Linked DNA regions of Homo sapiens. The protein of the gene in region 2 interacts with the protein of the main gene of each other region in a biochemical or structural test. Each region holds a gene or a part of one and is shown on either strand. Other genes may lie near its edges.

The links. The genes of interacting proteins can lie anywhere in the genome.
Region 1: of the proteins of NSMCE2 (region 2) and USP28, one has a biochemical effect on the other in vitro, tested with the Homo sapiens proteins (one study listed by BioGRID).

What each region holds. Positions count from the first base shown.
Region 1 is NC_000011.10:113,868,907-113,872,655, reverse strand, and holds part of USP28 (ubiquitin carboxyl-terminal hydrolase 28), read left to right. Parts: intron 1-3,749. UniProt on the Homo sapiens protein: Deubiquitinase involved in DNA damage response checkpoint and MYC proto-oncogene stability. Involved in DNA damage induced apoptosis by specifically deubiquitinating proteins of the DNA damage pathway such as CLSPN.
Region 2 is NC_000008.11:125,360,793-125,364,541, reverse strand, and holds part of NSMCE2 (E3 SUMO-protein ligase NSE2), read right to left. Parts: intron 2,486-3,749; coding exon of another isoform or gene 2,425-2,485; exon of another isoform or gene 988-2,424; intron 1-987. UniProt on the Homo sapiens protein: E3 SUMO-protein ligase component of the SMC5-SMC6 complex, a complex involved in DNA double-strand break repair by homologous recombination. Is not be required for the stability of the complex.

The DNA.
Region 1 (3,749 bases), on a different chromosome or scaffold from region 2:
CCAGTTTCAGTGAAAATTTAATGCCCTTTTTGCTTTCTCTTGATTTATTGACCTTTCGTTTCCTTTTGTCTCATTAACTGATTTTTAAAACATCAGTAAGTCAGTGATTGGTTCCACAACTCTCATGCCCCTCTGCCCCCAAATGCAAACAGTATTTTTTTTTTTTTTTGAGACGGAGTCTCGCTCTGTTGCCCAGGCTGAAGTGCAGTGGCGCGATCTCTGCTCACTGCAAGCTCCGCCCCCCGGGTTCATGCCATTCTCCAGCCTCAGCCTCCTGAGTAGCTGGGACTACAGGTGCCCACCACCACGCCCGGCTGATGTTTCTGTATTTTTAGTAGAGACGGGGTTTCACAGTGTTCGCCAGGATGGTCTCGATCTCCTGACCTCATGATCCGCCCGCCTCGGTCTGCAAACAGTATTTTTAAGACTTACTGGCAAATAGCATCTTACCAGGCGAGATCTCTCCATGTGTTCTGTTTCATCAAAGAAATTAAATCAATAGTAAAATGAAGCAAGTACTTAACAAGGAAAATAATGCTGGTAATAGTAATAGCTAATGCTAATTGAGCATGCACTATGTGCCAGACTCGGTGCTCAGAACTTAACATAGCATTCTCTCAGTACTTACACAACTCCATGAAGTTTCTATGAGAAGGCTTATACTTGTTAAGTAATTCGTCCAAGGTCACCCAGTGAGGATATGGTACAGTTGGAATTGTATCTAGGCAGTTCTGACCCCAAGAGCCCAAGGCGCCCCTGGTCCTATCTCATAGTTGATGGGCCCATTGCCCTGGATCACAGACTTTCCACTACTCTTATAATGCCTTTTCTAGAACTCTCCTAATGTTTTAAACTTCCAGTCCTCCCTACAGTCTTTCTAAATAGATAATCTTCTTTTCTACTTGACTGAGCTCGCTGATGTCTAAAAAGAGCTCCCTGCCTTCTGTTTTGTCCCCCTCTCCCTACGCCATCTCATCTCTTTTCTCTTATTTCAGTGGAAAAGGTTCCCTTCCTTTTTCCCCCTTTCATTTCTTAGAGATAAACCTAGATTAATGGTTTTTACTAGGGAGAGATTTTGTAATCTAGGAAGCATTTGGCAATGTCTGGAGACTTTGATTGTGACTCTGGAGGGAGGATGCTACTGGAATGTAGTGCGTAGAAGCCGGGAATGCTGCTAAACATCCTGCAGTGTACAGGAGTAAGCCCCTCTAAACAGAGTTATGTGTAAATTGTATAAAATAGTGCTGAGCTTGACAAACTCTGATCTAGATGATGTCTCTCTTCTCTTTCTATTATGTCCCTTCTCCTTAGTCCTAGTCTAACCCCCAGACACCTTCACTGTCTTCTCCCTTGCTACTCACATTATGGTCCACAGACCAGCAGCATTCACATCCCCTAGGATTTAGACATGCAGAAAGTTGAGTGTGCTAGAGCCAGCTTGCTCTGCCTCTCCAGCTGATTTTGTACATCTCTTTCCAGCTCTGTGTTCAATGACCTCGTGTTGATAACTGTGCCAAGGTGGGAATATTTATACCAAGGAAACAAGCATACACTGCCAATCAGCATACCACTGCCTGTACCCCCACTCTAGACCTATTCAATCAGTTTCTGCCTTTTGACAAGATTCTTGGGTGATTCATTTGCATATTACATTTTGAATTTGCATTTTCCATTTTACCGTGCACTTGTCCTCTATCTTGAAACCAAATAACAACAACAAAAGTGTCTATTGCCCAGTCCAGCTGTTGTCTCCACCTTCCTCCTCTTGTTTGCTTTTGGAACAAAGTTTCTAACCCCACCTGTTTCATTTCTAAAACATTTTTCCAGTGACAATGTATTCAGACTCAATATACAAAACTTGGAAAAGACAGACTTGAGCAAGACTAACTCTTAGCTGACAGGAGATTGAGGAAGGTTGGTTCCCAGATTCTGCTACAGAGCTTAAGGTGGCAATAACAGCTTCTGCAAAAGCCAAATAATGAGATGGCCGTGTGGACCAGTCTGGGCTCCAGCAAATGGCTGATTGTTCAGAGGCCTGCAGAGGGACTGACTAGGCAGCAGCAGGTTAGGTTGAAAGGCAGTGAGTGGTTTTATGTAATCAGAATCTGCTCAGCAGCCTACTTTGCCAAGGCAGGATCTCTCCCTCTGTCACCCAGACTGGGGTGCAGCGATGTGATTATAGCTCACTTTGGCCTTGACCTCCTAGGCTCAAGCGATCCTCCCACCTCAGCCTCCTGAGTAGCTGGGACCACAGGCGTGCATCACCGCACTTGGCTGTTTTTTTAATTTTTTATAGAGACGAGGTCTTGCTATGTTGCCCAGGCTGGTCTTGAACTCCTGGGCTCAAGCAGTCCTCCTGCCTTGGCCTCCCAAAGTGTTGGGATTACAGGCATGAGCCACCACACCTGGCCCCCTCATACTTTTATTATTTTATGCTTTTATGATCCCTCATTACCACTTTTTTGCTGTTACTTTTTTCTTGTTTTGTTTTTTGAGACGGAGTTTCGCTCTTGTTGCCCAGGGTGGAGTGCATTGGCACGATCTTGGCTCACTGCATCCTCCGCCTCCTGGGTTCAAGTGATTCTCCTGCCTCAGCCTCCCGAGTGGCTGGGATTACAGGCATGCACCACCATGCCCAGCTAATTTTGTATTTTTAGTAGAGACAGGGTTTCTCCATGTTTGTCAGGTTGGTCTTGAACTCCTGACCCCAGGTGATCTGCCCACCTCAGCCTCCCAAAGTGCTGGGATTACAGGCGTGAACACCTGGCTCCAAATCTACATTTCTAATCCTGAGTTGCAAATGACTTCTATACTCTGTTTCCCAGTGCTTTTTGAACAGGTCTGCTTGAATATCAACCTCCTTGGCTATAAACGTTTGCTTCATACTTATTTTCCCAGGGTTGTTATACTAGGCATGGGAATGTACACTTGTATTACTCGTGTCTGCCATATGCTATGTACCACCCTAAGCACTTTTCCATACATTTTTATTTACAAAAACCCAGCAAGGTGTGAACTATTACCCTATTACTGATGAGGAAACTGAGATGTCTTGTTTGTTTTTTGAGATAGGGTTTCACTCTGTCACCCAAGCTGGAGTGTGGTGACACCGTCAAGGCTCACTGCAGCCTTGACCACCCAGACCCAAGCAATCCTCAGACACTTGAGTAGCTGGGACCACAGGTATGCACCACCACACCTGGCTACTTTTGTTTTATTTTATTTTTTGAGACGGACCGCAGTCTGTTGCCCAGGATGGAGTACAGTGGCGTGAGATCAGCTCACTGTAACCCCCGCCTTCCGGGTTCTATTGATTCTTCTGCCTCTGCCTCCCAAGTAGCTGGGATTACAGGCACATGCCACCACGCCTAATTTTTGTATTTTTAGTAGAGACGGGGTTTCACCATGTTGGCCAGGCTGGTCTTGAACACCTGACCTCCGGTGATCCGTCTGCCTTGGCCTCCCAAAGTGCTGGGATTATAGGCGTGAGCCACCGAACCCAGCCTGTGGTTAATTTTAAAAGTTTTTTTAGCAATGGGGTCTCTCTGTGTTGCCCAGGCTGGTCTCAAACTTATGAACCAAGTCATCCTGCCTCAGCCTCCAAAAGTGCTGGGATTACAGGCATGAGCCACCGTGCCTGACCTCAGATGTTAGTATGCCTTATAAGGGCCTCATATGAGATTTATTTTATTTATTCCTTTTCTTTCTTTTGTCTTTTTTTTTTTTTTTTGAGACATGGTCTTACTCTG
Region 2 (3,749 bases):
GTTCCTGCCCACACAGAGCTCTGGCCCAGTGATCTGAGACAGCTCTCCATAAAGCACAGGATATTAAGACCAAAAACAACAAATGTGCAAACCACAGTAAAGATGCAAACCAGAAGGAAAGAAAGTTGGTCATGGGAGCTCCAATTTGTCTAGTGGTAGGAAGCCCAACAGTCCAACATGAAAGAAAGTATTTCTTGGCCCTGATCTGTGGATCAAGGAGTTTTTACATTAGAGGGGTATTAATCAATGAAATATAATATGCTTAATAACAGTATTTATTTTTAAAATATTAAAATATGGCCAGGCACGGTGGCTCACACCTGTAATTTCAGCACTTTGGGAGGCCGAGGCAGGTGGATCACATGAGGTCAGGAGTTTGAGACCAGCCTGGCCAACATGGCGAAACCCTATCTTTACTAAAAATACAAAAATTAGCCAGGCGTGGTGGCGCATGCCTGTAATCCCAGCTACTCGTGAGGCTGAGGCAGGAAAATCACTTGAATCCAGGAGGTGGGGGTTGCGGTGAGCCAAGATTGCACCATTGCACTCCAGCCTGGGCAACAGAGCAAGACTCTGTCTCAAAACAAAACAAAACAAACAAAAAAAAAGTGCCCTACATACTCAGGTACATGATGTGTTAAATCATAATTACAGAAAGGCAATTATATGAAAGAGGATCAGGGTGATTTGGCCCAGGTATGCATCATTTTGATGATTTGGCTTTGCATTAGGGCAAGGCTGGAGAAATGTTTTACACTAGTTTAAAAATCTGTATTTTTTTCCCAGCCTGTCCCCCTACGCTGTGAAGTCTCAAAGCGAATTCTCCTTCCTTTCTTCCTTCCTTCCTGCCTTCCTTCCTTCCCTCCCTCCCCGCCCTCCTCTCTTCTCCTTCCTCCTCCTCTCTTCTTCCTTCCTTCTTTCCTTCCCTCCCCCTCCTCCTTTCTCCTTCCTTCCCTCCCTCCCTCCTCCCCCTCCCTCCCTCTCTCTCTCTCTCTCTCTTTCTTTCTTTCTTTCTTTCTCTCCTCTTTCCTCTTTCTTTTTTTGACAGGGTCTCATTCTGTCACCCAGACTGGAGTGGCACTATCTCTGCTTACTGTGACCTCTGCCTCTGAGGCTCAAGCAATCCTCCCACCTCAGCCTCCTGAGTAGCTGGGCCCACAGGTGCACAATATCACGCCTGGCTAATTTTTAAAAAATTTTTGGTAGAGACAGAGTTTCACCATGTTTCCCAGGCTGGTCCTGAACTCCTGAGCTCAAGTGATCCACCTGCCTTGGCCTCCCAAAGTGCTGGGATTACAGGCATGAGCCACCGTGCCTGGTGAATTATGTCTGTAAGTATGAAAAAAAGCAGCTAAGATCATGAAGAGGATACAGACACTTTTGTGACTAGAAAAGCCAAGTATCATAACTTTGGCTTCCATGACATTGAAATGCAACTCCAAGTAGGTTGCTGGGATGACCCTCCCTTAAAACATAACCCTGAATATCTGCTTTGGACTGCCTGGCCTTGGTCTCTTCCATTCTACCCAGCAAAGGCCTTAACTTTCATAGCCAGACAGTGAATAAGCAGTGGAGAGGGAAGTGGAGAGTGAGGTGGGGAGGACTTCCTGATGACATCATGGTTTTAGTCAGTGCATGAGAGCATGCTGAGAATGTCTGATGGACTTAACCACACACTCAGCTGCAGAGCAGGCGCCCACCTTCACTTCAGTGGGATGGATCCCAGAGTGAGCCATGTCAAACAAGGTCTGAGTTCACTGAGGAGATAGACTCTGATGGTAGAGGCATGAACCAAATAGCCCTCCCAAGGGGAGCTGGATGGCCTACTGACAGAATTGCAGGCTCAAGAATGAGAAAGACCTGGGCTTAAACCCCCTGGCTGTGTCACTCTGGGTAAGTGACTAAATTCTCTGTGCCTCAGTTTTTCCCTTTAAGAACATGAAGGCAGAGGACAAGCCTGTCCAATAAGGCTGAGAAATAAGCAGGCTGATGTGTGTCAAGGACTGGGGAGTTCACTTCAGGTCCTGCCGTGCACCAGTCCCTGCCCTAGTCCACAGCTTCCGCTCTCAAGAAGCTCGTGGAGAGGAGCCAGCTGCACTGACAATGTTGGCATGACATGGGGTGCTAACGACATTTTGTCCAGCATGAATAAGGGCTCAGGGAAGACTTCCTGGAGGCGAGGTTGATGCTGGAACTGGGAAGGACCTTGTTTCTCCTTCGTCTCCAATAAACACAAGTTTTTAAAGCAGAAAGGATAAGAGAAGGCCATCATGCCACAGTGCTGAATCAAGGCATGCCTCCTCTGGAGAAACAACTGTCTCCGTAAGCATTCGGCATTAATCCCACGACATCTTGGTGAGCGAGTTCAGTGTGGCAATACCCGATCTTCAGCTGCCGCATCATCGCTGTGCAGGAGTCAGCCCTTCAGGCCTCGCAGGAGCGGCTGGGTCCCCACCTCCAGGCACTACCCGGGCAGAGCATTTCGCTGCAGCACAGGGCAAACACAAAGGTGACTGCTGAGCAAAGGGAACCGGGTCTTGGGGTCCCACAGAGCTGTGGGGAACCTTGGCCTCTGCAAATGCTCAAAAGTACATGATTCTGGGAGTTCCTGGATCTGGGTCCCAAGAATTCCAAGGTTTAGTCTACAAGCTATAGACAGAAGGTCTATAGAGACCTCTGGAAATCTGAGTGGGAGGGATTCCTGTCATACCTCAACACAGACAGTAATTCTATCTTACAACCCCTGAGTCAAATAATGTGTCACTAAGCAGCACGGGGAGTGATAACAACTCTATCAGCCTCGGTCTTAACAACCCTACAGCTATTTGTTTAGCGCTCTTCGCTCCCAAAAGAGCTTTCAACTAAGTGCTTTTGCTACTCTTCTGCCAAGAAATGTGCTGGTCCAGACCTAGAATGGAATTCCCTACCATTTCTTTGGCCCCTGAAGTGCTGTGAGATGCTGATGTTATTTCCACTTTACAGATGAGGAAACTGAGGCAGAAAGGTTGAATGGCTTGTTGGTAAGTGTTGAAACAGGAATTCCAAGCACAAAGCTGGAGTTCTGCTGTCGAATGACCCATTTCTATTCAATTTCATTTTATTCTACATGCTCTTAAATATGACTTTTAAAAATATGTTTCCTGTTCTCAAACAAAAAAGCAAAAAAGTGACTGTGGTCAGGTTAGAAATATTAATATATGAAAATCATAAGGTTGGGAGGCCAAGGTGGGCAGATCACTTGAGGCCAGGAGTTCGAGACCAGCCTGGACAACATGGTGAAACCCTGTCTCTACTAAAAATACAAAAATTAGCCAGGTGTGATGGCATGTGCCTGTAATCACAGCTACTTGGGAGGCTGAGGCACGAGAATTGCTTGAACCTGGGAGGCAGAGGTTGTACTCCAGCCTGGGAGACAGAGTGAGACTCTGTCTCAAAAAAAAAAGGAAAAGAAAAAAGAAACGAAAAAAAAAAAAAGGAAATCATAAGGCAGCTTTATTTTTAAGAGAATAAATAGGCTTATTGTTAACAGATATATTTTAGGAAATTATTCTAACTACCGTGCTTGGCTGGGGCTAAAGTCTCAACAATATTATTCTGACTCAAGCCAGTGCAGAGAGGCCTTCCCAGGGCCTGAAGCTTGCACAGTAAAATTCAGGCAGTGCCCAGAACACAATGGACCTGGAACTCCAGTCTAAAAAAACAAACATAACTAGAACAATCTAGGAGGAAGAAATGAGACAATGTGTCAT